Regions from separate parts of the Homo sapiens genome. Here region 2 is reported to be linked to region 1. Evidence: microRNA targets listed by miRTarBase, many of them from high-throughput screens and not tested one by one. Region 1 holds a microRNA gene; the other region holds the end of a gene's coding sequence.
What was found. Region 1 holds the annotated microRNA hsa-miR-548at-3p (CAAAACCGCAGUAACUUUUGU, at 2,207-2,227, shown strand). A microRNA usually pairs through its seed, bases 2 to 8, with sites in the 3' UTR of a target mRNA and lowers its output. Matches are read on the target gene's strand: a 7mer-m8 pairs with bases 2 to 8, a 7mer-A1 pairs with bases 2 to 7 and ends in A, and an 8mer does both.

Region 2: the mRNA of PURB is a reported target of hsa-miR-548at-3p. The part of its 3' UTR that is shown has no 7-base or 8-base seed match.

What each region holds. Positions count from the first base shown.
Region 1 is chr17:42,492,604-42,496,603 of GRCh38, forward strand. MIR548AT (microRNA 548at) reads left to right here and starts at 2,170; the gene lies at 2,170-2,227. It overlaps ATP6V0A1 (ATPase H+ transporting V0 subunit a1), which reads left to right. Exons shown (of 22, transcript NM_001130021.3): 12 at 1,731-1,870; 13 at 2,431-2,585; 14 at 3,023-3,113.
Region 2 is chr7:44,881,133-44,885,132 of GRCh38, forward strand. PURB (purine rich element binding protein B) reads right to left here. Exons shown (of 1, transcript NM_033224.5): 1 at 1-4,000. The coding sequence ends at 3,278. MIR4657 (microRNA 4657) reads right to left here and starts at 668; the gene lies at 616-668. RefSeq lists an enhancer at 3,470-4,000 and a silencer at 3,888-3,937.

The sequences.
Region 1 (4,000 bases):
GCTGAGGCAGGAGAATCACTTGAACCGGGGAGACGGAGGTTGCCGTGAGCCGATATTGCATTATTGCACTCCAGCCTGGGCAAAAAGAGTGAAACTCTGTCTCAAAAAAAAAAAAAAAAAAAAGTTCATCGGCTGGGCGTGGTGGTTCATGCCTGTAATCCCAGCACTTTGTGGGGACAAGGTGGAAGGATCACTTAAGGTCAGGAGTTCGAGACCAGCCTGGCCAACATGGTGAAACCCTATCTCTACTAAAAATACAAGAAAATTAGCCAGGCCTGGTGGTGCATGCCTGTAATCCCAGCTACTCAGGAGGCCTAGACAGGAGAATTGCTTGAACCCAAGAGACAGAAGTTATAGTGAGCCTAAATTGTGCCACTGCACTCCAGCCTGAGTGACAGAGCAAGACTCTGTCTCAAAAAAAAAGTTCATGAGACTGGATTCTTTCATGTGCCCTCACAGCCCTAAAACACCTGGACTTCTCTAGCAAATCATTTGCAGGAACTGTTTTAAGCAAAATGTTTCTTCTAAGATGTCTGATATTTTTAAATGGCTTTTTTTTTGGCTTCCCTGTTCCAAGGTTAGACAGAAAAAATGTAGCAAGTATTGGCCACTTTAGGTACAACACAGATTTCTCCTATATTTGGAGAGTTAATTATTAAATCAAGAGTGTGAGTATTCATTTTCAGTTGGAGCCCTATGGAAGAACTGCTTTGCTCTGGGCTCTCTCCATCTGTACGTTATCTGATATTTAGCTTTATATCACTGGGACATGGTTGCTGCACAAAGAGAAGACAGCTGGCCTGCCCTGGGAGCAGGGTCCCACGAGTTACAAGAGAGTCAGAGAACAAACCAATGTTGTCAAGGTTACACCTTCATTTCCACTGTTCTTTGTTTGAAATGTTATCAGAGCTGCCAGGCACAGTGCCTCATGCCTGTAATCTCGGATATTCAGGAGGCTGAGGTGGGAGGATTGCTCAAGGCCACAAGTTCAGGACTAGCTTGGGCAAAATAGTGAGATTCCATCTAAAAAAATATTATTTATCAGTAATTTTAAAACAAAATTAACTGGGCATGGTGGCACATACTTGTAGTTCCAACTGTTTGGGAGGCTGAGGTGGGAGGATAACTTGAGTCCAGGGGTTGCAGGCTGCAGTGAGCTGTGATGAAACCACTGCACTCCAGCCTGGGTGGCAGAGAAAGACCCCATCTCTCTTTTAAAAAAAGTTATCAGTAGCTCAAATTTCATTAGCTACTTTGTGAAGATGTGTTGATTCTGCCATGAAAGATTTTCTCTGAGAGTCCTATCTGTCTGGCAGCTGGGGAGTAAGTCACCTTATATTGATCTTAAGATTATGGAAGCCTGGGCACGGTGGCTCACGCCTGTAATGCCAGCACTTTGGGAGGCCGAGGCAGGTGGATCACTTGAGGTCAGAGTCGGAGACCAGCCTGGGCAACATGGTGAAACCCTGTCTCTACTAAAAATACAAAACTTAGCTAGGCATGGTGGTGGGCACCTGTAATCCCAGCTACTCAAGAGGCTGAGGCAGGAGAATCACTTGAACCTGGGAGATGGAGGTTGCAGTGAGCCAAGATTGAGACATTGCTGGCTGACAGAGCAAGACTCCATCTCAAAAAAAAAAAGGGGGGTGGGTATGGAAAAGAATGTAATATTTGTGGAATTGCTATGGTTTAATGTACTTTGTATTTTTCTTTTTTTGGTTTCTTCATAGCTCCGTATACTATTATCACGTTCCCTTTTCTATTTGCTGTGATGTTTGGAGACTTCGGTCATGGCATTTTAATGACCCTTTTTGCTGTGTGGATGGTACTGAGGGAGAGCCGGATCCTTTCCCAGAAGAATGAGAATGAGGTAATGTTTAAGTTACATCTGCATTGAACTGAAATTTTATAATTTCCCAAGCATTCATTATGAAAATTATGATCTGGAAGTCTTTTATCCATGAATTTATCAAAAGGAAGTAGAGAAGTTATGTTCATTTTAACACCAAAGACGACATGTGCAAGCTGGAAGTGGTAGTGTGTGCCTGTAGTCCCAGCTACTTGGAGGCTGAGGCAGGAGAATCACTTGAGCCCAGGAATTCGAGACCAGCATAGGCAACATAGTGAGACCCCATCTCTAAAAAAATAAAAATTATTTAGGTTTGGTGCAAAAGTTATTGCGGTTTTGGCTGCCAAAAGAAATGGCCAAAACCGCAGTAACTTTTGTGCCAACCTAATAAAAAAATAGAGGCCACATCCTGTGAAAGTGACTGTCTCATTAGCATTGTATTTTGGTTTTTACTTCAAGCTCTCTGAATCAGGATGGGGTAAAGTAGTGCTGGAGAAAGGGGCAGGTATATTCTGAATAACATTGTCACAATGTGAGCTGCAGTGAGTACATTCTCATTACTTCTTTCTTCTGGTTCCCAGATGTTTAGCACTGTGTTCAGTGGTCGATACATTATTTTATTGATGGGTGTGTTCTCCATGTACACTGGCCTCATCTACAATGATTGCTTTTCCAAGTCTCTTAATATCTTTGGGTCATCCTGGAGTGTACGGCCGATGTTTACTTATAATTGGACGTAAGTTGCAGAAGAAGCTAAAATTCAAAGCTTATTCCTTTCATGTGCAGCCCTGATTTTTAAGACAAGTGGTAAACTGACACTTCTTTAGGAAGTGGTGACAGTGTCTCCTCATTCATGCTCCACACTGTGAGTTGCTTTGTGATTTGTTCAGCAAGTATCCAGGAACTAAGATTAGAAATGATTTTTTTTTTTTTTGGAAACTAAAACCAGATTCCCCAGTTCCCTACTTGATTGTGTGTTTGTGTGTTTAATTTTTCTTTTTGTCATTTTGGATCCCTCAGTCTCAGCTGCTAGTCTCTCCTCTTTATTTTTCCCCTCCCATTTTATTGAAGAGACAAGATAGCTACAGTAATTTATTTTGGGGTCAGTTTCTGGACCCTTGTTGTTTCCCTCTCTTGTTCAAAAATAATGTGACTTTTTCCCTGTCATGGTAGTGAAGAGACGCTTCGGGGGAACCCTGTTCTACAGCTGAACCCAGCCCTCCCTGGAGTGTTTGGTGGACCATACCCTTTTGGCATTGATCCAGTAAGAGGACTTCCTTCCTATATGCTAACCTCAAATTTTTTAACACTAACCCTGAAGCAAGAGAATTAAAATGAAGATAAATAGTTATGTGGGCTTTCACTGGGCATGGTCGCTCATGCCTGTAATCCCAGCACTTTGGGAGGCCGAGGAGGTGGGATCACCTGAGGTCAGCATGGTGAAACCCTATCTCTACTAAAAATAAAATATTAGCCGGGCGTGGTGGCGCATGCCTGTAGTCCCAGCTACCCGGGAGACTGAGGCAGGAGAATCGCTTGAACCTGGGAGGCAGAGGTTGCAGTGAGCAAGCTGCACTCCAGCCTGTGTGACAGAGCAAGACTCCGTCTCAAAAAAAAAAAAAAAAAAAAGAAAGAAAGAAAGAAACAAACAAAAATAGTTATGTGGGTTTTCGTTGACATATTTTTGGGAAACCTTGATGTATGTATTCAGAGGACTTCTAAGCCATAAGAGACCCAAGTGCCTTGAGGAGCCACATACTTTTCCCTGCGCTGCTTATTTCTGAGGTGGTTAATAATATCGACTCTGGGAAGATTGATTTTTCAAGACTCCTTCCCATTTCTTAATTTATTTCTGCTTACTTAGTTTGGTTTTTTATTTTTAGCAGACATTTTAGCAAAGCAGAAATATATTTTTCCTGTGGATTTTAGACTTGCATTCTTATATTTACGAACTTACAAAAACTTATCCGAGAATTAATTTTTTTTTCAAATGCTTAGGCAAATTAAGTATGATCAAGTCTTCTTTATTGTGTGCTGTAAAAATGGAGTGGCGGCAAGAATGTAATACAGGGCATCTGACTGCTGAGGAAAAAAAAAAATAATACAGGCTGGGCGAGGTGGCTCATGCCTGTAATCCCAGCACTTTGGGAC
Region 2 (4,000 bases), not on the chromosome of region 1:
TGGGAAACAAACCTTCTAACAATTATATGAAAAGAAGTTTTAGTTTCCTACTTCTCAGGAATATGACTATTTTGATTAGCTGGGATGTTTGCCAAGCTTAAAAAAAAAGGCTCAAAATCATTCATAGCAACAACTGAAAAACAAAAAAATTGGTTGTTTCCCATGTCTGTACAATGCCATTATCTGACTGGAATTAACAAAGACCATTTCCTTTAATAAGCTATTAATAATATTTACGAATGAATCTGTGTTTTGCAGGTTTCTATTGTCCCTAGTGACTGGAGTGAAGATCAGTGAAATGCTACAATTAATCCACAGCCTTCTGCAATCTTCCTGCAGTGGGAAGAGAGGCCATGAACCATCCCTTGCAGGAGAAACAAACCTTAGAGATTGGTTAAGACTTAAAAACCCACCACTATGACATTACCACTTAATCTTACATAGGCAGGTCAAAATTTTAATATAAATTACTTTTGCCAACACATAGCTTATGCATTCTTTGCTCCTTTTTTTGGAGGATTTTCAAATTGATATCTAAAGATTTACATATGATATATTACTGTTACATGGTCTAATGACTAAGAAAATTTCTCTGGTAACCAAAGCTGATGCCATATATGGTAGTGTTCTTGGCATATACTCTATATGCCTCAGACCACTTCCACATTCTTTCTATTCAGCTAATTATAGCTTAGTAGCCACTGGTGAAGGATTGTGAAGACCCTGTCATTTCTACAGAATAGAAAGGCAAGGCTAGTTACTGCAATTCAGCCAAACAAAAAGAAAAAAGAATAAACCAACCCCTTAAAAAGGAGAGGTACTGCACCTTTGCAAAATTGAACTGGCTCACTGCAGCTGAGCAACAGAACCACCACTGAAGCAAGAAAACAAGTTGGTCTATACAAGAATTGTACATGGTTTGAAAATGAAAAAGTTACAGCAATCAACTAATAGCTGCAACTTAAATTTTCATTGCTGCCTCAGAGTTGAAACTTAAATAGTTTCTGCAAACCTAATGCTAGCTTCTCAGCTCCTTTACTAAAACTATTTAGGAATTTGTTCTCCGCAGCAAAGAAATAGACACTCAAAACACGTAGGTAAATACAGCAGGACATTATTGAAAAACAGCTGCCTTGTAGTACAAAATACAGTACAAGTATACGGATGTCATTAAAACATCAAAAATACTATTGCTCCCATACAATTTAGGAAACATTCTTTGCAACGGAGAAAAATTTAAAAGAAAAGCTTTAAAAAAATCTGTTTAAAAATTCTACTGTGGATGATGAGAGTAGAGAAATAGTCTGAAAAGGGCACCAATGTTTGTGGCTCTTCCACTTTTTAATCTAAGATCAACAATATTCTGCATCATAATCTATTTTTTTAAAAAAGCCTAATTTTATGTACACAATTATTTCCCGCCCTCTCAGCCACAAATACATGAAAACCTTTTTGTATATTACTCATTTCCCAATAAATACAAAAAGATTGTATAGATTGAATAATACCAAAATAAGATAATAAAAAGGATATGCAATAAATTAAAAAGGCAGCTCAAATAAGGGGCAGGCATGCAGTTTAAAAAAAATACTAAGATTGTGGAGGCGGGGTTACTTGCCTCCTGGTTGAGAAGGTGTCACACAAAGAATACCTGAAAACTTTGGAAAGAACGTTAGCTCCCATTCAATTCAAAGTTACCTAGGTCTATGACATTTCTAGGAATACCTTTTGATGGGGTGGGATTAACTTGATTAGTAAAAATCATTTCTACTGAAAATCCATTTAAAATATAGAAGAGGCGATCCTTGAAAACCCCAACTTTTATTCTTGAAAGACAGCTGGATTAACTGGCAAAAGCCAGTTTGTTGAAATTTCAAGATGGTATAAAAATGCTTCCAGGATATAGTCAGCATATTCACGTTCACTTCAGTTCCATTCACAGATGGATTTCAGCTTCCACCGGGTGCACTGCTTGAATCACTCATCCATCATTTGCCAACTCTGATTGTGAGGTACTGATACAATGGATCAAGTTCTTAAAAATTTTAAAAGAATAAATGATGCTGGAATTCTGGACCTGAGGATCTTTAGTATTTGAACAAATCCACAGATTAAACTGAAGGTAAATTAAGACTTCAGTTTTGGTTATTTCCAACTTTTCTGTGAGGATGTATATCCATTAAAGCTCAGGCTTATAGCCACACTGTTACTTTTGTAGGTAATCTTCAAGTTTTATGGTTTAAAATCCAGCCAACCAGTGGCTGTAACAGCCGAATTAGCCATAATTCACTGGCTCACACAGTGGAGATCTGGCTCTCATTCATACCAAAGCATTTCTTGGTAATGACCTCCATATTTAGAGATCAGGGGAACAACTTTAGTGAGCAGCAACCAATCCACTCAAACAGTCTGCCTTGTGCTTTATGCCTGACTTTTTCTTGTGCCTACCTCAGCAACCCCCAATGTAAAACTGCTTTTATCTTTGAAAATTTTTTGTCAACTTTGAAACTATTTTAGTAACGGATTCTACTCCAAGCATTGCTATCTGAATCCACTGGCATCCTGGAAAACAATTCTGCGAAGAAAAGACATTTGCCTTGGTCCAGGTTCCATGCAAAACCATTTTTTTAAAAAAATGGATCCAATTTGGTTCTGTATTCTTAGATGGCTTCTTGAAATCTTATCTTTAACCTGTTCATGATTATCCCAAGTTGCATTTCTTTTCGTGAACCTGAACCCTCAGAACTGGGTAATTGTAAAGGCCTCTCTTCTCAAGGATTCCATGAAGACCTAGATCCAAAATGCTGATTTCAATGGAGGTGAAGGGATAGACACCGCAACAGTGAGGCCTAGAGAGATCTTTTATGCCAGATTACCCAGGTGCAACCTAAATGCAACTGTTATCAATGGTCTGGGTAACTTGGACATGTTTCTTGCCCTGGATGTGCAAGGATCTATTCCCTCCAGGGATTATCCTGATGGGTTTACGAACCTCAGTTGAGAAACAACAGAAGCTGAGACAATTTTACGCAGGTGAGGAGATGCTGTTTTCCTCTTTGCAGGTTGCTGTCAGTTCCTTGGAACTTGACTGCTTTTCTCAAGTTGTCCGTCACTGTTCTCTTACGATTATTTCTCTTAACTGTGTTACGTTTTGTTTTTTCCCTCTGCGGCCTCCCTTGCTCCCTCTCCACTAGCTCACTGGGGATGAGCAGGAAAGGGAATTCTCTAGCCAAGGGGATGGTGGTTGGGTGGAGGCCTGTAGGGGAAGCTGCCCGTTTCAATCCTCATCCACCTCCTCACCCTCTGACTCTTCGCCGCCGCCGCTGCCCCCACCACGTCGCTCATAAAGCTTATCCCTCTGTCGTTCCTGGATTTCTTTCATCTCATCCGCATACCGGCAAAAGGCGCCTCCGAACTTGCCCCAGGCTTTGAAGGGTACGGTGATGGCATTGCGGTAGGACGGCTTCACCTCGCTCACTCGCAGAAACACCCCGTATTTGTTGCAGCCCACATCGAAGAAGAAGCGCTTGGAGTCCACGGTGATGGAGGTGCCCTCCGGGAGCTCTCCATACAGGCCGCCCCCTGGGCCCCCGGCGCCGCCTCCCGGGCCGCCTGCCAGCTCGTCGTCCTCGCCTCCGTAGTCGTCTATGAGCTTCGCCAGCGCGTCGCGGAACTCGATGAGGCCCTGCGCAGGCAGCGCGATGGTCTGGCCGCTCTGCAAGCCGCCCGGCCCGGGGCCCGCGCCGAAGCCGCCACCGCCGCGGTTGACCGTTTGGCGGATGCGCAGGAAGCGGCCGCGCTGGTTCTCCTTGAGGTCCAGGTAGTACTTGCGGTTCTCACGCACCAAGAATTCGCTCTTGAGCGCGCGCCGCGGCCCGCCGCCCTCCTCGGCGCCAGCCGCCAGCTGCTCGGGGCTGCTAGGGCCCAGCTGCGCGTAGTGTTCTATGAAGTCGCCCAGCGAGTCGCGGAACTCGGCGGCCACCGCCATGGACAGCGTGAG